4 linked regions of the Homo sapiens genome follow. The protein of the gene in region 1 interacts with the protein of each later gene in a biochemical or structural test. Each region holds a gene or a part of one and is shown in the gene's direction. Other genes may lie near its edges. The genes, in order: TOP1, TOPORS, NKX3-1 and CSNK2A2.

What was found.
Region 2: of the proteins of TOP1 (region 1) and TOPORS, one has a biochemical effect on the other in vitro, tested with the Homo sapiens proteins (2 studies listed by BioGRID).
Region 3: the proteins of TOP1 (region 1) and NKX3-1 form a complex in vitro, tested with the Homo sapiens proteins (2 studies listed by BioGRID and IntAct).
Region 4: of the proteins of TOP1 (region 1) and CSNK2A2, one has a biochemical effect on the other in vitro, tested with the Homo sapiens proteins (one study listed by BioGRID).

Annotation. Positions count from the first base shown.
Region 1 is NC_000020.11:41,023,673-41,032,682, forward strand, and holds the start of TOP1 (DNA topoisomerase 1), read left to right. Parts: upstream 1-5,149; 5' UTR 5,150-5,395; coding exon 5,396-5,428; intron 5,429-5,758; coding exon 5,759-5,783; intron 5,784-9,010. UniProt on the Homo sapiens protein: Releases the supercoiling and torsional tension of DNA introduced during the DNA replication and transcription by transiently cleaving and rejoining one strand of the DNA duplex.
Region 2 is NC_000009.12:32,539,030-32,542,976, reverse strand, and holds the end of TOPORS (E3 ubiquitin-protein ligase Topors), read left to right. Parts: coding exon 1-1,590; 3' UTR 1,591-2,433; downstream 2,434-3,947. UniProt on the Homo sapiens protein: Functions as an E3 ubiquitin-protein ligase and as an E3 SUMO1-protein ligase. Probable tumor suppressor involved in cell growth, cell proliferation and apoptosis that regulates p53/TP53 stability through ubiquitin-dependent degradation.
Region 3 is NC_000008.11:23,679,515-23,688,384, reverse strand, and holds the start of NKX3-1 (homeobox protein Nkx-3.1), read left to right. Parts: upstream 1-5,446; 5' UTR 5,447-5,495; coding exon 5,496-5,781; intron 5,782-6,745; coding exon 6,746-7,164; 3' UTR 7,165-8,870.
Region 4 is NC_000016.10:58,159,341-58,167,744, reverse strand, and holds part of CSNK2A2 (casein kinase II subunit alpha'), read left to right. Parts: coding exon 1-60; intron 61-436; coding exon 437-538; intron 539-1,060; coding exon 1,061-1,161; intron 1,162-2,036; coding exon 2,037-2,185; intron 2,186-3,597; coding exon 3,598-3,674; 3' UTR 3,675-3,691; exon of another isoform or gene 3,692-8,404.

The DNA of each region.
Region 1 (9,010 bases):
GGCTTACAGGTGTGAGCCATCTGGCGGGAGGGACTTCTATCTCTTATCTCTTCTCTTCCTCCACCCACTTTCTCCTATATCCTCCCCCACTTCCAGGTTTCTCTGGCCCTTCCAACAGCAAGTATCGCCAGGAGCAGCTCCCTAATCTACATACTACAGATCTATCCACAAGAAGACAGATGGAACCACTCTTTTCTTCTGAATTCTAGAACCTTAAGGAAGTTAACCTGAGTGGCTCAGCTTGGATCAAGTGCCCATCCTGGTCCAAACAACTGTAGCAGCACATCTGTGTATTTGTGTATCTTGTTCCTCCATAATCTTGCAGTCCGGGGAAAGTGTGCAGATGGATGGGTCCCTGAAAAGCAAGAGTTGTTTAGACAACGCTAGAGGTGTTCAGTTCTGGGAGACAAGAGTTGGGCCAGGTTGATAACTAGCCTAAGAGAGTCGGAATCAGATGAATAAGAACTAGATCTTGGGTGACAACCTAGATCAAGAGTCTTGAGGTTCAGTCATTTCAAAAAGCTCAAGTCTCATTGCTTCTTGGCCTTCTGGCTAAGATCATGTGCAGTATCTGTTCTTACCAGTTTAATATCTGATACATCCTCTATCTGAGGATAATATAATAAATAGATTTTTGGAGCAAGGAGATGGAATAGGAGCTTGCTCTGTCCACTCTACACATTGGCCTGGATTGCAGTACCTCCAGGAATGGTGCACCCTCTCTACCACCCCCAAAAAGCCCAAGTCTCAAGAGGTAGTCTGGAAAAAAGTGTTTTTGGATTTACCTACATTTTTTTTTCCAAGATGGAGTCTCGCTCTGTCACCCAGGCTGGAGTGCAGTGGCGCCATCTTGGCTCACTGTAACCTCTGCCTCCAGGATTCAAGCAGTTCTCCTGCCTCAGTCTCCCAAGTAGCTGGGATTACAGGTGTGTGCCAACCATGCTCAGCTAATTTTTCTATTTTTAGTAGAGACAGGGTTTCACCATGTTGGCCAGGCAGGTCTCAAAGTCCTGACCTCAGGTGATCTGCCTGCCTTGGCCTCCCGAAGTGCTAAGATTACAGGCGTGAGCCACTGCGCCCGGCCTAATTTTTGTAATTTTAGTAGAGACGAGTTTTCACCATGTTGACCAGGCTGGTCTCGAACTCCTGACCTCAGGTGATCCACCCCCGCCCTCGGCCTCCCAAAGTGCTGGCACTACAGGCATGAGCCACCGCTCCTGGCCGGGTTTGCCTACATTTTGGAGATGCTGCACACCATGTCCCTCTTTTCAAGAGTCACGTAAGTATTTACATATGGAAGACCCTGAGAAGGCACCTGGGAAAAAACCTGTTTAACTGTAAATATAATAATGTATGTATTTGTATGTGGAGCTCTTCTTTTAGTGGATTATCTATAAACCGTCCACTGTTCCCAATGCATACTTTGGAGACAGACCTACACTACCAGTTTTCACCTGCTAGTTATTTTTATAAGGGTTGGGATGGTCCATGAGTGAACAGTCTTGATTTAAAGCAGTGTTTCCCAAACCTCATTTATTTGCCTATAGCCTTCCTGGAGTTTGTCTTATATGTCCGCTCTGTGCACTATTCCTATATGTTTTTATGTAAATCAATCACTTTTTTAAAAAGCCTCATCCCAGTTATATCCTTAAAACAATGGTTATTTTTTCTCATACACATCGAAATACATATCTATTAGAATTAAAATGCTTGTCCATGCACTATCAATAATCTCCTCAAGTACCATATGGTGGGGACATGTGTTTGAAGTGTTAGGAGTCAGGAGTGGTCTCTGTAAGACAGAGTAAGTCAGTCAACCTCTGAGCACTGCCAGCCACACATGCTGGCAGAGAAGTTCAGCCTGTGACAAGACTGCCCGGATATTTCCATGTCTGTGCACGGGGATGTCCTCGGTCTGCCATTGTGAAGTCTGTGCTGTTTTCATGCCTACCTAGTCTTCTTTGGAGGGGCCTGGAAAGCAAATGCAGGCTGGGTACAGTGGCTCATGCCTGTAATCCCAGCACTTTGGGAGGCAAAGGTGGGCAGATCACGAGGTCAGGAGTTTGAGACCAGCCTGACCAACATAGTGAAACCTTGTCTCTACTAAAATTGCAAAAATTAGCTGGGTGTGGTGGTACGTGGCTGTAATCCCAGCTACCCGGGAGGCTGAGGCAGGATAATTGCTTGAACCCAGGAGGCGGAGGTTGCAGTAAGCCCAGATGGCACCACTGCACTCCAGCCTGGGTGACAGAGACTCCATCTCAAAAAAAAAAAAAAAAAGAAAAAAAAGCAAATGCAGATTCTCCCTGGGAAACGGGGGGTTGGGAGAGTGGAGTAGTGTGGATGCATTGTTATTCCTGAAGGCCGTCCTCAAATTATCTTGGACTCACTGCAGCAAGCAGATGCCTCATCTTCTGGCCAGGGATTGATCCTGAGATGGGAAGAGTATGAGAAGAGACACCAACAGCAAGGCAAAACTGGCTCTGGCAGCTTGCTTCAGAGAAAGAGTATAGCTTTGGAGTCAGGCCGACCTGAGTATGAATCCAAGACTCAGCACTTACTAGGTGCCTGCCCTCAAACCATTATTTTTTGATAGTCATTACATACCCACAATGATCACCATGGAGTGGATGAGGAAACAGGGACTCAGAGAAGTTAAACAACTTGCCTGATATCACACAGGTAACAAACAGCAGAGCAGAATTCAAACCTAAGTTGATTTGACTTCCAAATGTGTGCTCCTAACCAAAGCAGGGTAACCTGCTTTGATTTGCCCATTTCTTGAGCACCTCTTCTGTAGGAGGGCCTGTTGCTGGGTGCTGGGAATTCAGTGGTAGGCAAGATGGACAAGATTCCCCCCTCTCACAGACCTTGCTTGCTATAGGGGAAATAGACAGGAAACCAATTACTACATTTGTAACTTAATAACAAGTGTCATAAGTGTTACAAAGGAGATAGATACTATAAGGCACCTTTTATTTTTATTTGTTTATTTATTTTTTGAGACTCACTCGCTCTGTTGCCCAGGCTGGGGTACAGTGGTGCGGTCTCGGCTCACTGCAACCTCTGCCTCCCAGGTTCAAGCGATTCTCCTGCCTCAGCCTCCCGAGTAGCTGGGATTACAGGTGTGAACCACCACACTCTGCTAATTTTTGTATTTTTAGTAGAGACAGGGTTTCACCATGTTGGCCAGGCTGTTGTTGAACTCCTGACCTCAAGTGATTGATCCACATTGACCTCCCAAAGTGCTGTGATTACAGGCGTTAGCCACCGCGCCTGGCCTATAAGGCACCCTTGGTCAGCCAGTGGAAGCAGGGTCAGTAGTGCGCCGGAGAGTCACTTTGAAAAAGTGATATTTAGGTTGATCTTGAAGCATTCACAAGATGTGGTAAACACATCTAATGGTAAACATGTGATGGTAAACATTAGATGTGATAAAGATACTGATGGTCCACTGGATGAACAGTTTTCATATTTACTTCCAAATGATTTCATAGATATTATTTCACAGATAACACTTAGGATGAAGGTAAATAAAAAGGAGATCAATTAAAATATGAAATAATAATAGTGAAAGTGGTAATAGATGTGGCAATATCCACAAAGGAGTAATGGTTAGATTAGCATATTGAGAAGATCACTTTGGCAATTGTTGGAATGCAGTTTACGAGAGGGCCAAGAATGGAAGCAGCAATCCCTGTTAGAAGTGTAGTGTTTTGGAGTGCGGTGTTTTTTGTTGGTTTGTTTTTTGTTTTTTTTAAACCAGGTCTCACTCTGTTGCCCAGGCTGGAGTGCAGTGCAGCCTCGACCTCCTCCTCGGGCTCAGGTGATCCTCCCACCTCAGCCTCCCGAGTAGCCGGGACTACAGGCACATGCCACCACACCCCGCCAGTTTTTGTATTTTTTTGTAGAGTCAGGGTTCTGCCATGTTGCCCAGGCTGGTCTTGAACTCCTGGGTTCAAGTGATCTGCCAGCCTCGGCCTCCCAAAGTGCTAAGATTACAAGTGTGAGACACCACCCCCAGCCAGCACATTGTATTAATCCAAGCAGGAGAACGCAGACTTCAAAGGCTTATGGGCAGCAGAGAGAAGTAGATGAAGCAAAGAGATGCAATCAGCGGGACTAGTGGGAAATGAGGGAAAGGAAGGTGTCAGGATGGGGCTTTTTCTAGCTGAGTGGAGTTCAGTTCATTCCCAGAGAAGCTTGAGAGGTATCCAACTATAGATGCAAGGTAGCTGGCTGTTGGTCCCTTGTCTTTAGGACAGTTTGACTTTTGTAATACAGGCGACCTCACAGAGCTATTGTGAGAATTCAGAGCTGGGCACAGAATAGATGCTCTATAAACGGTAGTTCTATTCCCCATTTGCCCCGTCCTCCCAGCATGCCAGGGATACAGGGGCGGATAGAGACAGGTTCAGTTCCCTTTGGTCTCTTGCATTCCCCCTTCCCTCAGCACAATTCCTGGGCTCATAGCGGATGCTCAATAAGTATTTGTAGAATGAACCAAAGAAATCAGACCCTTGGTGACCCAGGGCTACATGTACTCGGCGGAAAACTGGGGTTAAACCGGACCCTTGGTTGGTTGAAAAATTAAAATAATTTTTAAAAAGTGGGCGTGAAATAATCCAGAAGTTGGAGGGCCTGGACAAAGGCTGGGGAGGGGACTCCTCCCACCAGGCGGCCTCAGGGTCGGCTTAGCAAGAAAGGAGGCGCTGGGGAGACCTCTGGGGTCCCAGCTGCCAAGGTACTCGCCGCTCCAAGGAGATGCGGACGCCGGATACCAGCTCTGCCCAAGATTGCTGGGTCCCGCCGCGGCCTTTAAAGGCCCACCACGTGGCTGCGCGGCCAGCCCTGGTCCGGAGGCGGTGCCCGGGTGGCGCCTGCGCACTGCCTAGCAGAGGGGCTGGGGTTCCGAGAAAAAGCGTCTGGAGAGGAAGGGGAGGCTGCTTGGGGTGGGACGCCGTGGGAGGAGTCGGCTCCTTATGCAAATCACAGCGGAGCGCGCACGGTCCGGAGGCGGGGCTTGCGATGCAAAGACAGGTCCGTCTGGCGAACAGCGAGGGGGCGGGCCGCAACCCTCTGCCTCTTTCCGCGAGCGCTGACGTCGCCGACGTGTTGTTTAAAAGCGGCCGCGCAGGCGCAGTGAGCCCAAATGCGAACTTAGGCTGTTACACAACTGCTGGGGTCTGTTCTCGCCGCCCGCCCGGCAGTCAGGCAGCGTCGCCGCCGTGGTAGCAGCCTCAGCCGTTTCTGGAGTCTCGGGCCCACAGTCACCGCCGCTTACCTGCGCCTCCTCGAGCCTCCGGAGTCCCCGTCCGCCCGCACAGGCCGGTTCGCCGTCTGCGTCTCCCCCACGCCGCCTCGCCTGCCGCCGCGCTCGTCCCTCCGGGCCGACATGAGTGGGGACCACCTCCACAACGATTCCCAGGTACGGCCCGGCCTGACCCTGGCGGCCCCGGACCCCGGCCTGGCCGTCCCGCGACCCCCGGCGCAGGCCCCGACCCCAGCCCCGGCCCGGCAGCTTTGACAGGCCGGAGCCCCCGGTGAGGGGCCGCCTGCCGGAGTAGATCGGCTCGCTAGGCCGCGAGCGAGGGCCGCGAAGTTACAGTTCGAGGCAGGGATGGCTGCCCTCTGTGGCCACCCCCGGGTCCCCGTCCTCCCCGGGGGCGCAGGGTGAGCCAGACCCCGGCCGCGCGCGCTCGCCGCCGGAGGGGTTAAAGTGGCTGTTGTTTGATATTCTCTCCTTTTCTTTTTCCAGATCGAAGCGGATTTCCGATTGAATGGTGAGTGTGCCCCCTGCGCCGACTCCGGGGCCCCCCAGCCGCCGGCCGCCTCCCCCGCGCCCTGCCGGTGCCGGGCAGAGGACAGACATGGCGTCCCAGAGACTAAGTCCCGGCTCCTCGCTCACCGGCCCCATTGTTCCCATCGGGCCGCCTCTTGACCCCCTTTCCGGGGACCCCAGCTCCTCCAGATCCCGGCCCTCCCAAGAGGGGACAACGGAGACCCCGTGTCGTCCGCCACCGGGCCTCGGGCGGTCTTTCCGGGCCGGGATTCCTCCCGGGAAAGTCGCCTTGTCGACGGTCGGGACTTAGTCTCTGCGCCATTTTCTTTTTCTCTCTCCTCTCCTTTCTGTGCCTGTGTCTCTTTCTCTCCCTCCCTCGGCTCTTTCCTTGAGCTGCCCAGAATGAGCTTTCTGCAGAGCAAAGCCGTATAAATCACATACTTCACCAGAGAGGGAAGGCTGGGGGACTGAATTATTATTTTTTAAACTTTATTTTGGGGGTTATTCCCTTTATGCTTCATGTTTGTTTCCTTTTCTGCTTCCAGAATGAAAGATTTCCTTAAGCAACTGTTAATTTTTTTTTTGATAGGCTGTTTATGATAGGAATTATGGCTCTAAAACTAAAGCCACGCTTTGTGGAGTTCTTTATATTTCCAGGTTGTTTTTCCCAAGTTACGTTCTTTGCAAAGGTAGCAGTACCTCCCTAAAGAAAGTTTGCAAGTTCTCTGTGGGTCACCCAATGTAAATGTTGGATTTTTAAAAAATTATGTTAGTCACTGGAACTTTTCATTGTGGTCGAGGTTCCCAATGCAGTGTTTTTCTGGAAACGCAGTTTAGTGTACTTGTTGGAAGGAAAGATTGTTGAGCATCTCTTGTGGACCTGGTGTGTTGGCCTTTTCGTTTGGGTTGTAAGGAGGAAAAAAAGATTTTATTTATTGAAGCAAAGAGTGTCCAGTACCCACCCCTGCTTCCTGTTCATTCTTTTTCACGAGCCACTGTTTTTCAGGAATCAAGAACTGGCTTTTTTTTTTTTTCCCAATTCTTTATGTTTTTGAACCCTTTTCAGCCAAATCAAGGCATTTATTCTTACTGTATTTCCACTTCAGTTACCCAGGGAAGAGTCCTCCAATAAAAAGCTCATCCTTGCAGGCTTTCGAACAACCCTGTTGAAGGAGAAGTTACCTTCTGTAGTGTGCTGGGAATTCCCACTGATTTTGATGGTACATAATCCTGCTCAATTGAGTTTGGGTTCCGGGAACCTCTCCAATGGGAGAAGTTGATGAGTAGGTTTTCTAATGTTGTAATCAGCAGTCCATCATGTTAGCCTGCTCTACTGAGAGCAACCTTATGTTCAGAGTTTGAAGTGGGGCATCCAGCAGGAGATGGTACTCAGCCAGGAGAGAATCTGGTTTAAAGTATGGCATTTCTTGAGCACCAGATATGTGCCAACCACTGTGCTTGGTGCTAGAGCTGATCCTGTAACCATAACACTCCCTTGCTCTCAATTCAGTCTATTGGGGGAGACATAATTAGTTAATTATAAGGTAACTACTGGGGCATATGTGTACCCAAAATGCTTTGAAGTATAGGGGAGTTAATTTTGTCTGAGGGTGGGGAAATTTCTCAGAGGAGGTGACTTCTGAGCTGGGGGTTGTGGAAGACTGGGCGCAGAGAATTGTCAGGGGTTGGAGTGTTTCTTAAGTACGTTTAACCAACCTATCACGATTTTAAAAGAGGGAGGAGGTGAGGCCTGCAGTTTAGAAAGCCACAGTATAGACATGTTTCTTTGGGATACAGGAGCAAAGAAAGGATGTGCAGGTGAGGATGTAAGAAGTCCTTTTGACCTTGCTAGAGGAAGGTGGGATCTTTAATATGGAATGTGTTCTTTTGGCTGTCAGGCTGGGCTGAGTAGGTAATGTAAGTAATGAAACAAAGTTTAGCCCTTTCTTGTGAGAAAGTTAACTTACATGGTTCTCACCTAAGTCACGTGAATGATTGTGAGCTGGCTAGGTTATTGATCTTTACTGACATTTTTATAGAGGCTGAAGTAATCTGCGTATGTTGACTTTTAGAATGTGTTGGCTCACATTTAATAGCAATAATAGCTAATATTTATTGAATACTTACTGCCAGGCATGAATCTCAGCTCTTTCCATGGATCATCTAATTAAATGTAATCCTTGGAAGGACCCTTGTGAGTTAGGTCCTGTTATTTCTGTTTTGTAGATGAGGAAACTGAGGCTTCAGTGTATTTACTAGCTTGCCCAAGGGCTGTGAGTTGGCCACTCTAAATCCCATGAGCTGAGCCACTATGCTAGAGTGATACTATATGATACTAGCATGAAAAAATAAAAAGCCACAAATCTCTATTTTCTTACAGAGCTGAAAAAGGAGAGAAGGAAGGATTTGATAATTTGTCATTTGCTTTTTATCTAAACATGCTTTTTGAAGAGAATCTGCCACCATAAAGTTCTGACATTGGTGTAATTATTCTTTGTGAATATTGTCTGGAAGATGTGGTGTTGGTAACTATGCTTGCTATCTCAAGTAATACATTGTTAACCAGTGATTGATTTATGTAACTATGAAAAAAACTTTAAAAAAAGTAGAAATCAATGTTTAATTATGCCCAGACATGTCATTATTGAACTTTGTATTAAGAGATTGTTTAAGCGTGATTTTAAGAGGGCCTAACCCATCTTACAGATTAACTGTACAAGTTCATATATTAAAATCAAACGTCTCTCATTTTGCCTGCCCTCATCCCCTAAGATATAAAAGATTCCCCCCCGTCCCCCCACTTTGGAGCTCATTCTTCGCAATATTTAAAATTGTAGCTCTTTGCATGTAATTTAGAACATTCTGACCCATACTCAACTGCTGGGAGACTCTGTTATTTATATTTAAAATGTTGACAGTGAGTTAGGAATTTGGAGCAGAAACCATATCTAAGTCTAAGTGAAAAGACTTCCTAAGTATTGGTAGAACTAACTGTAGTGGGGCTGAGTCATTATTACAGTACTGTACAGGCTGCGTAGCTATCTGTAGAATTGATAATGGTAATACCAGGTTAAAGTGTTAGCGATTCTTCTGCTGTTTCAGAGGTCTTGAAGTTTTTGCCTGTCTGCTATGGAGATAGGGAGTTCTCCCCCATTTGACCCCCTTAGCAAAGCACAATACTTGGCTCCATCAGTCTTTAGTCTAAGAAGTGATATATAGGATCATGGT
Region 2 (3,947 bases), on another chromosome or scaffold:
GAACAGGAGCAATCTTACAGTTCTGGTGATAGCGATGTTAGTAGATGCTCATCTCCACACTCTGTCCTTGGAAAGGATGAACAAATAAATAAAGGTCATTGTGATTCTAGTACAAGAATCAAATCAAAGAAGGAAGAGAAACGATCTACATCATTGTCATCTCCCAGAAACCTGAACTCATCTGTAAGAGGAGACAGAGTATATTCTCCATATAACCATAGACACAGAAAGAGGGGAAGATCAAGAAGTTCAGATTCACGTTCTCAGAGTAGAAGTGGGCATGATCAGAAGAATCATAGAAAGCATCATGGGAAGAAAAGAATGAAAAGTAAACGATCCAGAAGCAGGGAAAGTAGCAGACCTAGAGGGAGAAGAGACAAAAAGAGATCAAGAACTAGAGATAGCAGTTGGTCCAGAAGAAGCCAAACTCTGTCTCTAAGTAGTGAAAGCACAAGCAGATCAAGGTCTCGTAGCAGTGATCATGGTAAAAGAAGATCACGGAGCAGAAATAGAGATCGTTATTATTTAAGAAATAATTATGGAAGCAGATACAAATGGGAGTATACTTATTACAGTAGAAACAAGGACAGGGATGGGTACGAATCATCTTACAGGAGGAGGACTCTGTCCAGAGCTCATTATTCTAGACAGTCTTCAAGTCCAGAATTTAGAGTTCAGTCCTTTTCTGAAAGAACAAATGCTAGGAAAAAAAATAATCACAGTGAGAGGAAGTATTACTACTATGAAAGGCACAGATCAAGGAGCCTGTCTAGTAACAGATCAAGGACTGCATCTACCGGGACTGACCGGGTGAGAAATGAAAAGCCTGGAGGGAAACGAAAATACAAAACACGGCATTTGGAGGGTACTAACGAAGTGGCTCAGCCATCTCGTGAATTTGCTTCTAAAGCAAAGGACAGTCATTACCAAAAATCTTCATCAAAATTGGATGGAAACTACAAAAATGAGAGTGATACCTTTTCAGACAGCCGATCATCAGACAGAGAGACAAAACACAAAAGGAGAAAAAGGAAGACCCGGAGCCTAAGTGTAGAGATAGTTTATGAAGGAAAAGCTACTGATACAACTAAACACCATAAAAAGAAAAAGAAGAAACATAAGAAGAAGCATAAGAAACACCATGGAGATAATGCTTCACGTTCCCCAGTTGTAATTACCATTGACAGTGACAGTGATAAGGATTCTGAAGTAAAGGAGGATACAGAATGTGACAATAGTGGTCCTCAAGACCCTCTACAAAATGAGTTTTTGGCTCCTTCCTTGGAACCATTTGAAACTAAAGATGTAGTTACAATAGAAGCTGAATTTGGTGTGCTGGACAAGGAATGTGATATTGCCACACTTAGTAACAACTTGAATAATGCCAACAAAACTGTAGATAATATTCCACCTCTGGCAGCTTCAGTTGAACAAACTCTCGATGTAAGAGAAGAGAGCACCTTTGTTTCTGATTTGGAGAACCAGCCCAGTAACATTGTGTCTCTTCAAACTGAGCCATCAAGGCAATTGCCATCGCCACGGACATCATTAATGTCAGTATGTCTTGGTAGAGACTGTGATATGTCTTAAAACTGCCAAAGCATTTCATTGAGAATTATGATGTTATAAAAAGGAAAAAGGAAGAATGTCGTCTACTGCAGTCTATTTAAAGATGACATTTGGTGAAAACTCTCTTCCTCCTTACAATATTTTAAATGATTTTTTTTTTGGTGTTAATTTGTAAAAATCATTATTTGTTCAAAATGTATGTCCCACCCTCAAAGATATGCACTTTTAAGTGAAGAAAATGATACTGCTAGCAGCTTATTTAAAACTTGGGGTCCTTTTTAAATAAGAAAAATTATATAAATTTTAGAAGTTATTTCATAAAGCCATACGGTATTGACATATTTTTAAGGTAGTCAATGAGTATTTTTGAATTTTTTTTTTTTGAGAGTTATTCTGGAAATGTGTTATAAGCTAGGAGAATCCCTTTGGACAGTCTTTATTTTTCTTCTTAAAAATTTATATGATTCAAAACCATTTCTTCAGGTTAAATTGAGGCATTTTAATCTGCACAGTTTATCTTCTGCCAAAATAAAAATTTACTATTTCCTTTATATACTTGTTTATCTGGACTGCCAGTAAAACAAATGTGTATTCAACAAAAGAAAAAAAATAAAACAGTAACACTTTAAAACAAGAATCAGACATTTTCCTATGCAGTATTTTTTTTTAAAGTTTATTTTAGTAAAGTTAAAATCTTGAAAGTAGCTAAGGGCATAATTATGTCATAAATACTGAACTTCAGGTGAACAAATACTTTATAGTTTTAATTATTTTCTTTGATTTTGAGGAGTATCTTATTTGCTTTCTATCATCAGTAAAAACAGCATTTAACTTGCTAAATAAACATGAAAAACCCTTGTCATACTTCTTTTACATTGGTAGTTCTTTCATATAAAGTGGTTATGTTTTATCTTGTTTTAGGGATGATAAAATTACATCTATGCTGATGTAGGATTGCCACTGAACAGTGGAGCTTGAGTTAAATCTTAATTCAGCCTTCAGTTTGCCTTTGCCTTGCTACTGTATTCATTCTTTATTCAGTAGAAATTGCAGTGCCTACTATGTGGCAGGTTCTGCACTAAGTTTTGGGGTTTTTTTTTTTGTTGTTGTTGTTGTTTTTTTTTTTGAGTTGGAGTCTGGCTCTGTTGCCTAGGCTGGAGTTCAGTGGTGCAATCTCACTTCACCACAACCTCTGCCTCCCGGGTTCAAGCGATTCTCCTGCCTCAGCCTCCGGAGTAGCTGGGACTACAGGCACGCGCCACCATGTCCGGTTAATTTTTGTGTTTTTAGTAGAGGCGGGGTTTCACTATGTTGGCCAGACTGGTCTCAAACCCCTGACCGTGATCCGCCCGCCTCAGCCTCCCAAAGTGCTGGGATTACAGGCATGAGCCACTGCACCTGGCGGTTCTGTTTTATCAATAGAGCAAAGCAGTTATGCTCCCTGCCTTGATGGTGCTTATGGACTGTTAAGACAAATATTTATGTAAGTATAACATTATAAACTATCATACATTCTCTGAGGAGAAAGTATAATTCCCTTACAAGTGAATGGGGATCTAATCATGATTGGACGTAATAGTTGAATCCAGAAAGCAAGCCAGCATTAACGGGGGAGGAATTGCTGTTGGCAAAGGATCCAAAGGCAGATGAAGAGCCTAGCATATTCCAAGAACTAAAAGCAGGATTAGACAAAGGACAGGGTGGGAACAGTCTTGGTAGGCCATGTTTAGAATCCGTTATTCTAAGGACAGTAGAAAATTGTCTAAGAAGAATCTAAAATTGATGTTGGCAATTTTTAAGTAAGCTCAGACATTGAGAAATTGTGGGAAGACTATAGTTGATCAAGAAATACACATTAAGTTTGAAATTACTTTGTAGTTAACAATGTAATTTTTCTTAAGTATTAAAAACAACACTATTCCACATAGTAATTTCACATCATGTTTTCCCTTAAACATTTAATGAAAACAATACATGGCACATCATCCTTTTGGGTGTTCAAGCCAAAAATTGCCAAGTCTTGATTCGTCCCTGTCCTTCAGCCCCCCTCATTCAGCTGCCAAATCCTTGGCACTAATGATTTTTATGATATTTCTATTGTGTCTGTAGCATTCACATCCAATCTGGGTAGCCAAGATCTTTCATCTGTGCTACCATAATGGGTCAGCTTGCATTCATTGTTGGTCTGCACCCGCTCCTTTCCCCCATCCATTTGTGATGCAGCACTGAAAAGATTTTTTTTTCTCTTGAGACAGTCTCACTCTGTCGCCCAGGCTGGAGTACAGTGGCACAGTCTTGGCTCACTGCAACGCAAGCTCCACCTCCTGGGTTCAAGTGATTATCCTATCCCAGCTTCCCGAGTAGCTGGGATTACAGGT
Region 3 (8,870 bases), on another chromosome or scaffold:
TGCCTGTAATCTCAGCACTTAGGGAGGCCAAGGCAGACAGACGGATTATTTGAGGTCGGGAGTTGGAGACCAGCCTGGCCAGCATGGGGAACTAAAAATACAAAAAAATTAGCTAGGTGGGGTGGCATGTGCCTGTAATCTCAGCTACTCAGGAGGCTGAGGCAGGAGAATCACTTGAACCTGGGAGGTGAAGGTTGCAGTGAGCCAAGATTGCTCCATTGCACTCCAGACTGGGCAACAAGAGTAAAGCTCTGTCTCAAAATAAATAAATAAATAAATAACACCTTCTTCCTTCATGAGAGTCACTTCTGGGTCTGTGTGTCTTACCATACCTGACTACAACAAACCCCAGATACATTTTCAAACACACATATAGGGGCCAATTCTATGGGCTCTGGTTGTACTTCCTACCCTGGAGGGTAGCAGTGGAGGCAGGTGGGGTGGGTGGAAGGATGGAGGGTGATGCAGTGGAGACATCCACGGGCCTAGAGGTTTAGGGACTCAACTTTGTTATAGTTCTTGTCATCTCTGTAAACTTAAGGCTCCTTCCTAGAAAAGCAAGACATTTTCTTAGATAATCCTGAGGTCCCTCCTAGCTCTTAGATGGTTTCTAAAACATGTAATAGAGCAATGTTAAAATGTTTATGTGTAATATGAATTTGGGAGGAAAAAAGGATACAAAATTATATTTATCTTACCATTGAAGATGGCCAAAGACCGGAAGAAAATACAGACACACACACAGACACACACACACACACACACACACACACACACACACACACAAACAGTTTTAATGAAGGGATGGGATCATGGGTCTAAAGAGATATTTATAACTTAAAAGGAAAAAAGGATCCAAAGTTCACATCTGCAGTCAAGTTCAAGCTGGTAGGGCCTCCTTCATCACTGCTGCTCTTTTACTAGTGCCCCTATATTAGTTTCTTAGTGCTGCTGTGGCAAATTACCATAAAGTTAGTGGCTTAAAACAATGCACATTTATTATGCTATGGTTCTGGAGATCAGAAGCCCACACTGGCTTATTGGGCTAATATCAAGGTGTCATCAGGGTTGTGTTCCTTCTGGTGGCTCTAGGAGAGAATCCACTTCTTTTCTTTCCCTGCTGCCTGCATCAGTTGGCTCCTGGCCTCCTTGCACCCTCAAAGCCAGCAAGGGCCAGTTGAGTCTTTCCCACAGTTGACTCTTTCTAGCCTTGCTTCAGTTGTCATATCTTGTCTGACTCTGATTCTCTGGCCTCATACTTGTACTGATAAAGACCCCTGTGACACAACAGGCCCATTTGGATAATCCAGAATAACCTTCCCATCTCAGGATCAGCGGACCAGCAAACCTAATTCCATCTGCAGCATTAACTTTCGCTGTCTATTTACATAGCATATTCACAGAATCTGGGGACTAGGGGTTGGTCATCGCTGGAAGGGGGCATTGTTCTGGGCTGCAGCCCCTGAGTGTCTCCAGATTGCCTTGCACATTTTCACCCGGTTTAAACTGCATAAACACAGCAAGGGGAGGAGGACGAGCCTTCCACTGTGATTTGCCTGGGGGTCCTTTGGCCCCTTATGGATAATTCCGCTAGCCAGTGAGATGTGTCATAACAACTGGAGCTGGACATTGAGCCAGCAAGCACTTATGGAGCGCCTTCTGTATGCCGAGAACTAAGCCAGACTTTAGAGATGGTACAAATATGAGGAGGATACAGTCCCTTCTCAGGGAGCTCATAGTCTCATAAAGAAGATGAGCCATCCACACCCCCAAATACAAAGCACAAGGGGAGAAAAGATGCAGTGAGGTGAGGCCGAGGACCACGAGCTGTGGCCCCACTCACAGGCCTGAGGAGGACGCGGTGGAGGAGGGCAGTCCAGGCTCAGCTCCAACTTGATATTTTTCATTTTTTAAAATTATCAATGAGTACAAGGAAATACACCCTGTTCCACTATCCTCCTGTCCCTCTCCCAACCTACTGTCTCCATCTCACTGAGCAGAGGTAACTACTCTATGGAAAAAAAGAATACATATGTATAAATCTTGTTCCTGATATATTCTGTATGTTAAAGTGTTCAAATGAAAAACATTATATAGGTAACTTATAGTGCTGTTTTATACAATGGGTTTCATCTATAACATGCTTTGCAGCTTGAACCAGTCTCTGACCAAATTGAAGATATGTTCCCAAGTCAATACATTGTGTATTTGTGCACTTCTAGGGCACATTGCCAAACACAGAATAGCTGTGTCAAAGGATATGCTCAGTTTTAATTTTGACAAATATTCCCAAGTTGTCATCCAAAAACAGTCATGCATCCTTAGGGACAAGAATATGTTCTGAGAGATGCAATGTTAGGCAATTTCATTGCTGTGCAAACATCATAGAGCTACTTACACAAACTTAGATGGATGTAGTCTACTACACACCTAGGCTACATGGTATGCCCTATTGCTCCTAGGCTACAGACATGTACAGCATGTTACTGTACTGAATACTGTAAGCAAAGGTAATACAATGGTAAGAATTTGTGCATGTAAACATATCTAAACATAAAAAGGTACAGTAAAAATACAGTATCATAACCTTATGGAACCACCGTCATATATGCTGTCTGTCACTGATCAAACGTCACGATGCAGTGCATGGCTGTATGAGAGCAGCTGTTCCTCCACACTCTCACTTACACTGGACATTATCCATTTTTTTTAACCTTTGTCAATCTGAAAGGTGGAAAAGGCTCGTCTCAATGTGATTTTGATTTGCATTCCTTCACTGATGAAGTGTAGTTAAAATATTTTTTTCACGTGCTCGTTTGTGTTTTACATCTTTGAGCTGTCTGGAATTTATTTTGTCATAAGAATAGGACTTTATCTTTTCCAAATGGCAGCACTTGTTATTAAATAATTCATACCCAACTCTCAATTTTAGAAATAAAAGGAGGCCATCTCAATCTAAACCTCACACTATATACAAAAATTAATTCTGAAGGAATCATGGATTGAAGAGTAAAGCATAAAACTTTTAGAAGATAACATAGGAGCAAATCTTCAGTATTAGGACTAAACAAAGAGTTCTTAGGCAGGACATCAAAATCACATTCTGTAAAATTCAAAAATTCATAAATTGATCTTCAATGAAATTAAAATCTTTTGTTCTGTTGAAGATCCTGTTAGAGGGATGGAAACACAAGCTACAGACTGGGAGATAATATTTGCAAATAACCTACCAAACAAAGACTTACAAACAGCAATATATAAAGAACTATCATAACTCAATGGTTAAAAAATAAAAGAAAGAAAAATTCAATTATAATATGAGCAAAAGGCTTGAACAGATATTTCACCAAAGAGGAAATATGGATGGCAAACAAGCACATGACAAGGTATTCAACATCTCTAGGCATTTGTGAAATGCAAATTAAAAATTTAAACCACAATAAGGCCCAGCACAGTGGCTCACACCTGTAGTCTCAGCACTTTGGGTGGTGGAGGCGGAAGGATTGTTTGAGCCCAGGGCTTTGAGACCAGCCTGGGCAACAGGGTGAAACCTTATCTTTACAAAAACTACAAAAATTAACTGGGCAGGGTGGCACACACCTGTAGTCCCAGCTATTCAGGAGGCTGAGGTGGGAGAATCTCCTGAGCCCAGGAGGTTGAAGTTGCAGTGAGCCATGATCTCTCCACTGCACTCCAGCCTGGGCAACAGAGCAAGACCCTATCTCTAAATAAATAAATAAATGACGTCTGTAGTCTAGTTAACTGTAATGTCCCAACGTAAATTTCCTGTTTTCTACATTGTCCTACAGTTGTATAGATGTCTTTGGAGGACACTGGAGGTATTATTTTTGCAACTTCCTGTGAATCTACAATGATTCAAAAGAAAACATTAAAGAATGTTCTAATATAAAGAGACTTTGAAAAGATGAGAGAAGAAAACCAGCTTTGCCAAAGTCTTTCCCGTTGCACAGGTAGTTTTCTTTGGCGGTCGCTTTATCAGCAATAACCTATTAACTTTCCTTCCTCCAGAGACACATGACATACCATCCTTTTGAAAAGTTGCCAGTTGAATAGAAGCCGTCTTAGACCAGGACAGACAAAAAAGTTGCATTAAAAAAATGGTTCTAAAAAACATCAGCCTACCCTTTTTCCAGATTACCAACTGTTACCATTTAACCCATCGGCTTTATGGCGTGGGATCTATCAATCTGCATCCTTGTTTCAGAACCATTTGATGTAAGTTTCATAAATCTTGTGCCTTTGCTCCTACTTACTTCAGTGTTTATTTCCTAAAAATATTCTCTTGTACACTGACAGTACAATGTGCAATTTCAGTAAATTTAACATTAATTCAATACTTCCATCATCGACCTGACACTGAGACTCATGCCTGTAGTCCTGGCACTTTGAGAGGCCAAGGCAGGAGGATCACTTGAATCCAGGAAATCGAGGCTGCAGTGAGTTATGATGGCATCACTGCACTCCAGCCTGGGCGGCAGAGGGAGACCCTGTCCGTAAAAAAAAGAAGAGAAAAGACAAGGAAAGAAAATACTTCCATCATCTCTGTTCCACTTTCGTCTGTTGTCACGGTACCGTCCAGTCCAGTCACAGTACCGGTTGGACCAATCTGGCTAACCCATTGTTTAGCCAATGGGTTACATGTTAACAGTTGGTAATCTGCAAAAAGAGTATGCTGATGTTCTTTTGAACTACTTTTTTAAATGCAGTTTTTGCATTTGTCCTGGCCTAAAACGCCTTCCATCCGTCTGGAAACTTTTCAAAAGGATGGTATGTCATGTGTCTGGGGAGGAAGGAAAGTTAACAGGTTATTGCGGATAAAGGAACCACCAAAGAAAACCACTTCTGCAACGGGAAAAGGCTTTGGCAAAGGTGTTTTCCTTCTTTCAGCCTGGGGTCTGGCTGCACCTACTTGTCATGCCTCTTTGAGGTCGTAGATATTGCAGATCTGAGTTTGCACCATCTCTCCCAGAGAGAGAGAGCACCCAGAACTCTCACGGTACCGCGCGGCTGCAGTGACTGCGTGCTCATCCCCTGTAATTGGCTCTGACGGTCCTGAAGAGCTAACTGGACTGTTTGTCTTGATCGTCCCATCCCCAGGAGCTTCTCTCTGTTGCGGGTGGGTTGGGGCAGAGGAGCCCCGCTTTGGGGTGCGCTCCTGGCCTGGGAAAACGGCTCAGGGCGGAGGGAGGAGAGCTGGAGAAGGAGAGGAAATTGGGGAAGGAGAGGGAATTGGGGAAGGAGAGGGAACTGGGGAAGGAATCCCCTAGGGAGGAGCGGAGCGGGGCAGTGCTCAGGGCTCGCAGATCGGCGGGGTCACCTGGGGCTCAGGGCGGCCAATCCGCGGCGCGGCCCGTCCCGCGGCCAATGGGAGGGCGGCGCGGCCCGCTCCCCTGGGCTATAAGCGAGCCGGGAGGCGGAAAGTGAAAGCGGTGCGGGCCGGGCGGGTGCATTCAGGCCAAGGCGGGGCCGCCGGGATGCTCAGGGTTCCGGAGCCGCGGCCCGGGGAGGCGAAAGCGGAGGGGGCCGCGCCGCCGACCCCGTCCAAGCCGCTCACGTCCTTCCTCATCCAGGACATCCTGCGGGACGGCGCGCAGCGGCAAGGCGGCCGCACGAGCAGCCAGAGACAGCGCGACCCGGAGCCGGAGCCAGAGCCAGAGCCAGAGGGAGGACGCAGCCGCGCCGGGGCGCAGAACGACCAGCTGAGCACCGGGCCCCGCGCCGCGCCGGAGGAGGCCGAGACGCTGGCAGAGACCGAGCCAGGTAAGCGGCGAGGCCGGGGAAGGGGGGCAGCCCAAGGCGGACCCCCAGAGCTCGGGGTGCAGGGACGCGGGGCTCCGCGGCGACAGGCAGAGGGACCTTCCCGCCTCCGCAGCCACGCGCGCGCCCCCGGAATGAACCCTGAGCCCCAGCGTCAGGGCGGCGCAGGATTCTGACACCGCAGGACTCGCCCGGCTCCGTGCCCTCCGCTCCCTGGGGCTCAGAAGCCGGCGCGACTGCAGCGCCACCGCCCTCCACCGTCCCAGGAGCGGATCCCGCCCCGCGCCACCCGCGATCGGCGCCAGCCCCCCGGTAGTTATGAGAACTAATAATAACTTATTAACAGTGACAAAGCAGGGGTTGACCAGCAAAGCCTCCGTGTGCTTCCCAATCCCGTGGGCAGTAAAGCGGTATATTCGGGGTTCCCTCCGGTGTCCAGGAGAGAGAGTCCACTTATTTTCTTTCCTGTCACTTCTGATGAGGCGACCGAACGCCTCGTTTAGCGAAGAGGGAATTAAAGCCCAGAATGAGCCTGCCTCTGCGTCTCCAGTGGCACAAGCCCTCTCTTGCCCACCTGGATCCTAACACCGGATGTCTTTTGGTCTGGCCTTCCCGGGTATCTTGTTCCACGGCATTTTCCCTGCCTCCCTCTCCCGCCTCTCCTCAGCACACAGATCCAGAATCCCCATATAATTCTACTAGACAGTAGGGAGAAAGTTCAACCACGAAACGTCTCTAACTTTGGGTTCTTGATGATTCTTAGCAAATGAATGCGTAATAAACATATTTACTCACTCTTCACTCCGGAGAGCTCCTTAGTCATGTGAAAAAAGTGAAATGTATCCACGATGACAGTGGGCTGTTTGTTCACTCACTAAAGAGATAAGGGTGGATTGAATTCTGTTCTCTTCCCTGCTAACATGTAACTTTTGTCTTCCCATCCCTCCTTCCCCACTCTCCTTTCCAGAAAGGCACTTGGGGTCTTATCTGTTGGACTCTGAAAACACTTCAGGCGCCCTTCCAAGGCTTCCCCAAACCCCTAAGCAGCCGCAGAAGCGCTCCCGAGCTGCCTTCTCCCACACTCAGGTGATCGAGTTGGAGAGGAAGTTCAGCCATCAGAAGTACCTGTCGGCCCCTGAACGGGCCCACCTGGCCAAGAACCTCAAGCTCACGGAGACCCAAGTGAAGATATGGTTCCAGAACAGACGCTATAAGACTAAGCGAAAGCAGCTCTCCTCGGAGCTGGGAGACTTGGAGAAGCACTCCTCTTTGCCGGCCCTGAAAGAGGAGGCCTTCTCCCGGGCCTCCCTGGTCTCCGTGTATAACAGCTATCCTTACTACCCATACCTGTACTGCGTGGGCAGCTGGAGCCCAGCTTTTTGGTAATGCCAGCTCAGGTGACAACCATTATGATCAAAAACTGCCTTCCCCAGGGTGTCTCTATGAAAAGCACAAGGGGCCAAGGTCAGGGAGCAAGAGGTGTGCACACCAAAGCTATTGGAGATTTGCGTGGAAATCTCAGATTCTTCACTGGTGAGACAATGAAACAACAGAGACAGTGAAAGTTTTAATACCTAAGTCATTCCTCCAGTGCATACTGTAGGTCATTTTTTTTGCTTCTGGCTACCTGTTTGAAGGGGAGAGAGGGAAAATCAAGTGGTATTTTCCAGCACTTTGTATGATTTTGGATGAGTTGTACACCCAAGGATTCTGTTCTGCAACTCCATCCTCCTGTGTCACTGAATATCAACTCTGAAAGAGCAAACCTAACAGGAGAAAGGACAACCAGGATGAGGATGTCACCAACTGAATTAAACTTAAGTCCAGAAGCCTCCTGTTGGCCTTGGAATATGGCCAAGGCTCTCTCTGTCCCTGTAAAAGAGAGGGGCAAATAGAGAGTCTCCAAGAGAACGCCCTCATGCTCAGCACATATTTGCATGGGAGGGGGAGATGGGTGGGAGGAGATGAAAATATCAGCTTTTCTTATTCCTTTTTATTCCTTTTAAAATGGTATGCCAACTTAAGTATTTACAGGGTGGCCCAAATAGAACAAGATGCACTCGCTGTGATTTTAAGACAAGCTGTATAAACAGAACTCCACTGCAAGAGGGGGGGCCGGGCCAGGAGAATCTCCGCTTGTCCAAGACAGGGGCCTAAGGAGGGTCTCCACACTGCTGCTAGGGGCTGTTGCATTTTTTTATTAGTAGAAAGTGGAAAGGCCTCTTCTCAACTTTTTTCCCTTGGGCTGGAGAATTTAGAATCAGAAGTTTCCTGGAGTTTTCAGGCTATCATATATACTGTATCCTGAAAGGCAACATAATTCTTCCTTCCCTCCTTTTAAAATTTTGTGTTCCTTTTTGCAGCAATTACTCACTAAAGGGCTTCATTTTAGTCCAGATTTTTAGTCTGGCTGCACCTAACTTATGCCTCGCTTATTTAGCCCGAGATCTGGTCTTTTTTTTTTTTTTTTTTTTTTTTTTTCCGTCTCCCCAAAGCTTTATCTGTCTTGACTTTTTAAAAAAGTTTGGGGGCAGATTCTGAATTGGCTAAAAGACATGCATTTTTAAAACTAGCAACTCTTATTTCTTTCCTTTAAAAATACATAGCATTAAATCCCAAATCCTATTTAAAGACCTGACAGCTTGAGAAGGTCACTACTGCATTTATAGGACCTTCTGGTGGTTCTGCTGTTACGTTTGAAGTCTGACAATCCTTGAGAATCTTTGCATGCAGAGGAGGTAAGAGGTATTGGATTTTCACAGAGGAAGAACACAGCGCAGAATGAAGGGCCAGGCTTACTGAGCTGTCCAGTGGAGGGCTCATGGGTGGGACATGGAAAAGAAGGCAGCCTAGGCCCTGGGGAGCCCAGTCCACTGAGCAAGCAAGGGACTGAGTGAGCCTTTTGCAGGAAAAGGCTAAGAAAAAGGAAAACCATTCTAAAACACAACAAGAAACTGTCCAAATGCTTTGGGAACTGTGTTTATTGCCTATAATGGGTCCCCAAAATGGGTAACCTAGACTTCAGAGAGAATGAGCAGAGAGCAAAGGAGAAATCTGGCTGTCCTTCCATTTTCATTCTGTTATCTCAGGTG
Region 4 (8,404 bases), on another chromosome or scaffold:
TACAATGTTCGTGTAGCCTCAAGGTACTTCAAGGGACCAGAGCTCCTCGTGGACTATCAGGTAAACTTGTTAGCAGAGCTATTCTGGGTTATTTATACTTGCTTAGGGCTTTTCTGGTTTGCTGTTGATCTAGTCAGTTTGAATACACTCAAAACCCAGCCATTATTTCACCCTAAAATGCTGATTTTAGTTTTTTCTCAGCTAGTTTTTTGGGGGGACAGAGAAGTTTTTAAATCTAAAATATCTGCAAAGGTTAAATGAAGACTAGAAATTCAGATCATTTCTAGGAGCCAGGAAGTTAAAAAAAATTTTTTTTAAATAAATTATCTATGGCCATACCACCCTGAACACGCCCAATCTCGTCTAAAAAAGAAATTTATATCAGAAAAATGGATTTCTAATACCCTTGGCTAATGCGTTGTCCTTATTGCCTCAGATGTATGATTATAGCTTGGACATGTGGAGTTTGGGCTGTATGTTAGCAAGCATGATCTTTCGAAGGGAACCATTCTTCCATGGACAGGACAACTATGACCAGGTGAGCAAATGCTTTCTGGTTCTTATTTATTTGGGGGTGAATGCCAAAAAAATAGCATCCTTAGATAAGAATACTATCCTTGAGCCACTAAGTATCACTCAGTGTCTGCATATGAGCTTTTCTTCAAGATAAAGATCGCACAGAATTTTGTGTTTACCAGGTCCGCAGAAGTAGAGGCAGATAATGCCATCTATGCCAAACTTCCAAAGTGAATCTGTGAAGAAGTCAGGCACCTCCTTGTCTAATAAAACTAGATTTTAGTCATTAGATTGTGATGCCCTGTACTGGTCCACCTCTAGAAGATTATTATCGTAAGTTGTATTATTTTAAAGGCCGTTTGGAAATTTGCATTCATGTGAACTTCTTGTCCTTGGGTCTGTCTGCCTGCCCTGGACCTGGGTTTGTATCTCGTTCCTAGAGGTTTAGTGGTGTGGAAGTCTTCTGATTCCTTGGTGCAGTGTCCTCACGGGCTCATGGTGTGTTCTGTGCTCAGTGATTTGGTCAGTTTGTTTTGTGTTTCAGCTTGTTCGCATTGCCAAGGTTCTGGGTACAGAAGAACTGTATGGGTATCTGAAGAAGTATCACATAGACCTAGATCCACACTTCAACGATATCCTGGGACAGTAAGTAAGAGAGAGAGAGAGAGTGCTTTACCTTACCCCGTTTCAGAAGTGGAAAGGTTAGCCAAAATCACTTTCTTTTCCCATTCTGATTATAGTAAAATGGAAGTAGCCCTCTTTTTTCCTATGCATATTTTCTTTTAACTTATTGAGATATTTGGACTTTATGTCTTTTAATCATTTTACTTCTCTGAGAGATAACCTATTAATAGAAAAGGTAAAACAAAAATCATAATGTTATAGAAAAAAGTTTTCTGGTACAGCAAAAGCTTATTTTTAATGGCCAAACTTGGAGAGCAATGATTCTTTGAATAAGAGACTTAGTTTGTTTTTTATTATATTTTATTTTATTTACTTCATATCTCTTCAAGGTGGACTTACAATTTCTTCTTGTTCTCTGTAATGGATTTTCTATACAATAGCAAATTTTAAAGCACATTGAGTTTTCAGGTACATTGCAATAATGTTGAGAAGTAAACATTTTGTTAACAGTTTTCAAACAGTATTTTATGGAACCTCCCTGTTTCTGAGGCTAGCCCTGGGAAATATATCTGCTGACCAATAAAAATTGCCCACTCTTCTGCATGCCACCCAGAATTGACTAAAAGTCTACAGCATAAAAAATAATCTAGAAAGGTTCCACATATTCTAAATGAGATATAGAAGTTTTACCTAGTTGTATTTTTCTAATCACAGAGCACCATTGTGTTTCAGGATGCTATGCTGTAACTATGGGGCCGTAGGGCAGGCACCAGTTAGAGATTTAACAAGCTTGTAATCAGTACATTATTCTGAGATTTTGTTGGCTTTAGCCCTAGTAGATAAGGATTCTTGTTGAATTTAGTCTCTGGTTACTAATGCTTCATTTTTCTTCTCAGACATTCACGGAAACGCTGGGAAAACTTTATCCATAGTGAGAACAGACACCTTGTCAGCCCTGAGGCCCTAGATCTTCTGGACAAACTTCTGCGATACGACCATCAACAGAGACTGACTGCCAAAGAGGCCATGGAGCACCCATACTTCTGTGAGTCTCCAGGGACTGTGTTCAGGGAGTAATTCAGTCAAGAGAACAAATCTTCCACTCTTTGTCTTTGAGACCAGTCAGGAGAATTCTAGGGTATTTGGATTGGATTATTCCTAGAATTTGGCCTCATTTATCGTAGATGATTGAGACAACTTTGCAGATCCGTTTCTTGATCACCAAAGGTGTTTGCTTATTCACTGAATGTATCTCCCCGGAGTTCAAGCTGTTTGACTACTCCCTGTTACCCTGAGTTAATAGATCGCAAGTTTCTAAAATTTCTTTTTAAACATACATATATTTGTGTGGAAACCTAATTGAAGATTATTTCTCCCCTCAGAAAACTAGTAATTAGTTAAAAGTAGTAAGATAACTATTGTATGTTTTGAAAGAAGGAGATGAACAGATGGATGGACGAAAGGAATTTGAGGAAAGGGAAGTAAGTGTGGAGAGGCCTCACTGAAATCTTGACTGAACTGCTCACTTAGAAGTGTGTGTGGATTCACTTTGCGTGTTTGCTTATTCTTCTGCATGTGTATGGTTCTTTCCTCTGATAACGTGTGTTTCAAATAAACTTCCTCCTATTATCAGTCTCCTTCCTGGGGAGCAGGGAGGTTGAGAGACTTACCTCAGTCGCTTTCTGAATCAAGAGGGAAACGTTCACCCCTTAAAGTCGTTGTCTCTGGCTTAACAAACATGCTGTCTTTCCCTCTCCTTTGATTTCCTCTGGAGATGAACTAAATTCTTGCCTGAAGAATGTGTCGCTGTAGTCTTGAGCCTGTGGCCCATATGCATAAGGGAGACCGCAAATGGAAAAGCCTTCAGCCTTCTAGACCTCAGCCCCAGGAAACTCAGATGTCCCCGCCCCAGTGTCTGGCACAGAAAGCTGTTTTTACCCGAGTTAGATCAAATTAGGAATACTGATGTTTATGACATGTCATTAATGATCTTTCTGCTTTTCTGAATATATGTCATACTTCAATTTAAAAAATTTCAAACTACGGTTGCTTAAAATGGATAGGTCTTCTGATGGCTCTTTTTACTCACCTTTCCTTTGAAGTGCTTGTTATTCTACATGCTTTGAAGAAATTAGGGGTTAGAGATGATATTAATATTGAAAGAAAATAAATGTAGAAATTTGAACAGTGGGAAATTAGAGTTTCTATGCCTCTTAGCATTGAGTCTGTACTCCGAGGAAGGGTAAGAGTTGACTGCAATAACAATTTCCCTGATCATTTTTCAGTGTTTGGTTTTTATATGGCTGGAATTCCGTGATTTCCGTCTCTCCTGTTGCCCCCCTGACCCTGGCTTGCCCATCAGTCTGTCTCTCTTTCCGTTGAAAGGGTGGGTTTGCCATGGGCTTCTCTCAGCACTCACCACCCTGATTGCCTGACTTTCCTCCTGCTTTCTTGCAGACCCTGTGGTGAAGGAGCAGTCCCAGCCTTGTGCAGACAATGCTGTGCTTTCCAGTGGTCTCACGGCAGCACGATGAAGACTGGAAAGCGACGGGTAATGCGGCATTGATGCTTGCCAATAAAACCAACCAACCAAACACAAACCTTGAAGGAAAACTACAGTGTGATAAAAAGAAATTCTTATCATTCCTTCTAAATGCACAGAAGAGTAAAGACCTAAAAGTCTGTCAAAAAGCAAGAAAGAAACTCCCCAGTGCTAGTCTCCAGGGAGCTGTCACTGTGGCAGCATGGGGATGCACCTAGTTCAGGATCTGAAGGAGCTCTGCCTTTGGAATGCATGGGAGATAGAGACTCGGAGTTGTTGTACATTTACCTTTGTTTAACAGGGCACCACTGTTGAATTAACCCATTCAGTCAACAAGCTCTGAATGTCTGACTTCCTATCTATTCCATTGTGGTCTGGGTTTCCTTTGGTGAAATTCAGGCTCAAGTCTTAGCGAAATGTCAGCAGTCTATACTGACACACCAGCCTCATTTACAAAAAGGAGATATTAAAACAGTGACAGTATTTTTTTTTTAAGCTCTTTACAAATCCACGTTTTATGTATTTTTTAATGACATGAGCTCTCCAGGAAATGTACCTCATCCCCGCAGTTTTCCTCCAAGTGGATTCATTTGGGAGCAAACTGCAGTCACTTTCACAAGAGTCCTCTTTGATGTCAGGAGGGATCACGAAACCTTGCAATGCCATGAACTGGTCCATGGTTATCATCAAAAGTTCCATGCTAAGTGCATAACTTGGAGCTCACTATAACCTTTGTTGATTTCCCTAACCATAAAATCTTGTTGCTATTTTTTTGTTGCTTTTTCTTTTTTTTTTTTTTTTTTTTTTTTGGCAGCCTTGTAAGGAGAACTTCACCATTTCCCAGCACATCCCTATGTGTGCGCCTATTTTAATGCACCTCTCTGAAACAGAGACCTTTTTGTTCACAACCATAACTAAAGCTGGAAAGTCAGTCTTCAGGCAAGGCGAGGGAGGAAAACATCCCATTAGAATTTTTTCAGGAAAGACTTATGGAAAAAAATATCTCTCTCCCACCTCCTTTTATCCCCATGAGACACAGTTTCCCACTGTAATCAGGGTAATATGCATTTGTAAGTTCTGATATGTGATACATTTATGTGATGGCAAAGATAAGTCTGTCTTGCATGCAGGTACTAGAGTTGTGTGGGCAGGGTCATCTGAAACTCAAGCAACTCAGAGGAATATACAAGGGGCTTGGGGAAGAAAATGGTGCTCCCGGAGCAAGTGTTGGATCCATTTTGCAAACCTTCATGTTAGCAGAGAAAGCTAGAGTTTGTTTAAACAAAAATAGGGCTGATTTCATTTTGGGGACTCAGGAGCAACATGGTTTGTAGGCAGTCCCCTCACCCCAGCTGCAGGGCCATGCCACAGCTGTGGGGACTTCACACACCTAGGCTAGAACTAGAGGTGTCTACCACATCACCCTTTAAGATTTCTTTATTAACTATTTAATAATGCCATACATTTTTATAAGGTTAGATGTTTGTTTGAAACATTTGTTTACATTCCATATTCCAATAAAATCTTATTGGTATTGGTAGCAGATCCTACTCTAAATGTAGATTCTATTTTTGTCGTTTGGTCTGTGGGAACTTAAAATACAAATGAAACTCTTCTCTTATTATAGAGTTGAGTTTATAGAGTAAAAAATAAATAAGATCCCAAAGCCAAGGAATGCATTCAGTTAAGGTTCTCATACCAATGCTGCCTGCTTGCATTGCACATTCTGTATACTAATGTAAACATTTGTTCTACCTGAAAATCAAAAGCAAGATGTGAGCTCTTTGGCTAAACCTGTATTGATATGTCAGGCAGCAAAACTCAGTGTTTGAGATTATCAAAAGCCTTCTAATATGCCCTTATAGGCAATCCTGAAGCATTGGTTATCATCAGGGAGATGTGCCACTGCGTGTCTTTCCTGCTCCCCCTCCAATCTCCTTTATCACCCCACCCCACTCCTCAGCCCTCCCTTTTTTTTTTTAAGTTGCCTGTCTGGACCAGGCAAGAGGTGCCTACTGGAGGGTCTTGGTGAAGCGGTAACTCCATTCCTTTCCCTTGGGTCCCCCAAAGGTAATAAAAGTACCTGGAGGAGAATAGTCAGGTGATTGACCTCTGCCTGTCTCTCTGACGGTGATGTAGGTGCAGACACCGCCTGCCTGCCTTGTCCTGGGGTTTTGTAACTGCAGCTTTGACACAGGCATTCTTCCTTTGAAGCACACAGCTTGCTTTTCCAGCACCTAGACTTTTACCTCTCTTCATGCCTTAGACTTAGACCATAACTGGGCTTGAAATGCTCACCCCTTCCTGGGTCTGGTCTTGGCACCTAGGCTATTCCTTTCCAAACTGAAGTGAGTCCAGTTTCAGACCATCTCTTTTCCTGTCTCCAAAAACCATTTTTGTTTCCAAACCTAGCTCCCCCGAAATTTTAAGACTATTTACCTAGATTCGGAGATGGTCTTGGAGAGTTCCAAAAGGGGTGTGTGTGTGTCTGTGTGTGTGTCTGTGTGTGTGTCTGTGTGTGTGTCTGTGTGTGTGTCTGTGTGTCTAATATTTAGACTAAACCATGGTAAATGTACGCACCCAGTATCCTTTTCAGTTAGCATATTCTTTCTTAAACTCATCTCAGTACTTTTCATTTGTTTGCTTCATTATCTTAAACAGGTTAAAAGTGCCTATGATAAGGACTTAATTATTTCCTAAAGAAAAGCAAAAAATGTGGGGAACAGGGTAGTGTTATACTATCATCTCAGGTACTGCCTATGTTCAAGAACATAGACCTGGTATGGTGAGAACAAAAGGTTCCTATGCCAAATCCAGATGGCTATATCATTTGTTGGCTACAAGTGAGCCTGACTGCAAGGTTTGCTTCTGCTGAGAAATCCCATGGTGAGAGTAGAACTCATGAAGTGCTGAGTCACATTTGCACCTCTGGTGTGGTGGCAGTTCACTCTCCCCTGGATGCTGTCAGCTGGCCTTGCTTTCATCCTATCCCTGTAGGCAGGGTAGGTGGCTGGGTAGGAGAAGCTATTGAGTGTATGACGCAGACCAAGCTTTCCTGGGCCTTCTCACCAACTAGAGAAGCGCTGATGTCGTTCATTGAGGCACTTAAACACCAGTCACTCAGCCAGGCCTCCTCCCAGACATTCTGTAACATGTCAGCACTCACAAGGTTTAAAGCAAATGTGTTCCCTTGCAGAGAGGAAGGTGCTCTCAGACTGATAGATTAGAGGAGACAGACAAACTCGTAATCCTTGGGGACTTGAAGAGAGTGGCTAGGGGAAGGGCTGTTAAAAGAAAAGGGACCAATAAGAAAATCCATCTAAAGGTAGCTCTTGAGGAGGAAATTAACTTCTTGAGGGGATAAATTAGAGGGTACCAAGTTTATGTTCTGGAATGTACCCTGGGGAGGGCGCTGCCCACTGGATTGGTCCCAGTGGACTGAAAGGTGGTGCTCTCGAGTCAGGCGCTTAGTCCCAGAGAGAGCTGGGTGCCGCGGGGCTCGTGGTCTGTGCCTACTCAGGGAAATGACTTAGGTTCTCCCAGGTGCTCTGTTGATAAGGATGGAAGCAGAACTACTTTGAGACACAAGCAACAATTGGAAGAGTTTTTTTATATGAACTGAAATAGATCTAAGAGAGCCTGGTTAACAGTTTCCTTTAATACCAGTTCAGATTAAATGGTTACTTTAGGAACCTGTGTTACTGTGTGAGCACCCACAGAAACAAGCAAACTTATTTCCTACAAAAAATGAGGGGATAATAACCGATCAGAGTCACAGTCGTTTCAATATAAACCCTTCCGAAAGCAAAAGCAGGGACCACATGAGCACACAAGAAGCCAAAGTTTGTCAGTGATCTTAATAAATTAAGACTGAGTAACATCCTGCCTTTAGAAAAAAATAACCCCGAGGTGGAGACCAGGGCAGGGGAGGTGGCGGAGAAGCATCGGGCCAGATCAACCGTTAATAACATGCTTCTGAGCTATGTGGATGTATAAATGAAAACACCCCCAACTAGGTATTGTAGAGGCTGGAAAAAGATGTGATGGGATTATACAGGTGATGCATATTTTTGTTTTGAGACTCAACAATGTGCTACAAATGTGATACTTAACCCTGAACTGCATGTATTGGGGATTGTTTTTTAAAAAGAAAAAAAACAACTTTGAATCAATAAATTAACAGTTTTTCACTTGCTGGCTCTTCTTGCTGTAAATGGTGACTAAGAGGTTGGGACAGAAATCTTGACAACTAGTGGAAAACTTGGATAATCTTCAAGGACCATGGAGCCTTCTGTTTCCTTCTGTTTGCAGAAAAGCAACACTGCCTGGGTTGTGATCCTTTACAAGTGACTACTTCAGACACAATTGGCCACCTCTTTGTATCACTGGATGACTGATGTATGATTTATGTGCTGCTGCCCTTAGAGGGAAGAAAAATGCCATGTTAAATCCTGTTTTCTTAAATAAAAATGTTGACAATAACCAGCCTTCCCAAGTGGGAGACAAACCATTGCTATGAGGACCTTAACTTGTATTTCCTGTCTCTTTGGGGGAGAGGGGAGGGATAAACCTTGAATTGCAAAGATGTGTGTTACACCTTGATGTGAAAACTTTCCTTTGGCAGAAGTGGGGCTAGAGTGGTGTCCTGTTGGGAGTGTTCCGTTTTTATGTACTTGCTTCTGAGTCGCGCCACTCAGACACCTGCCTCTTGGGATTGACTGT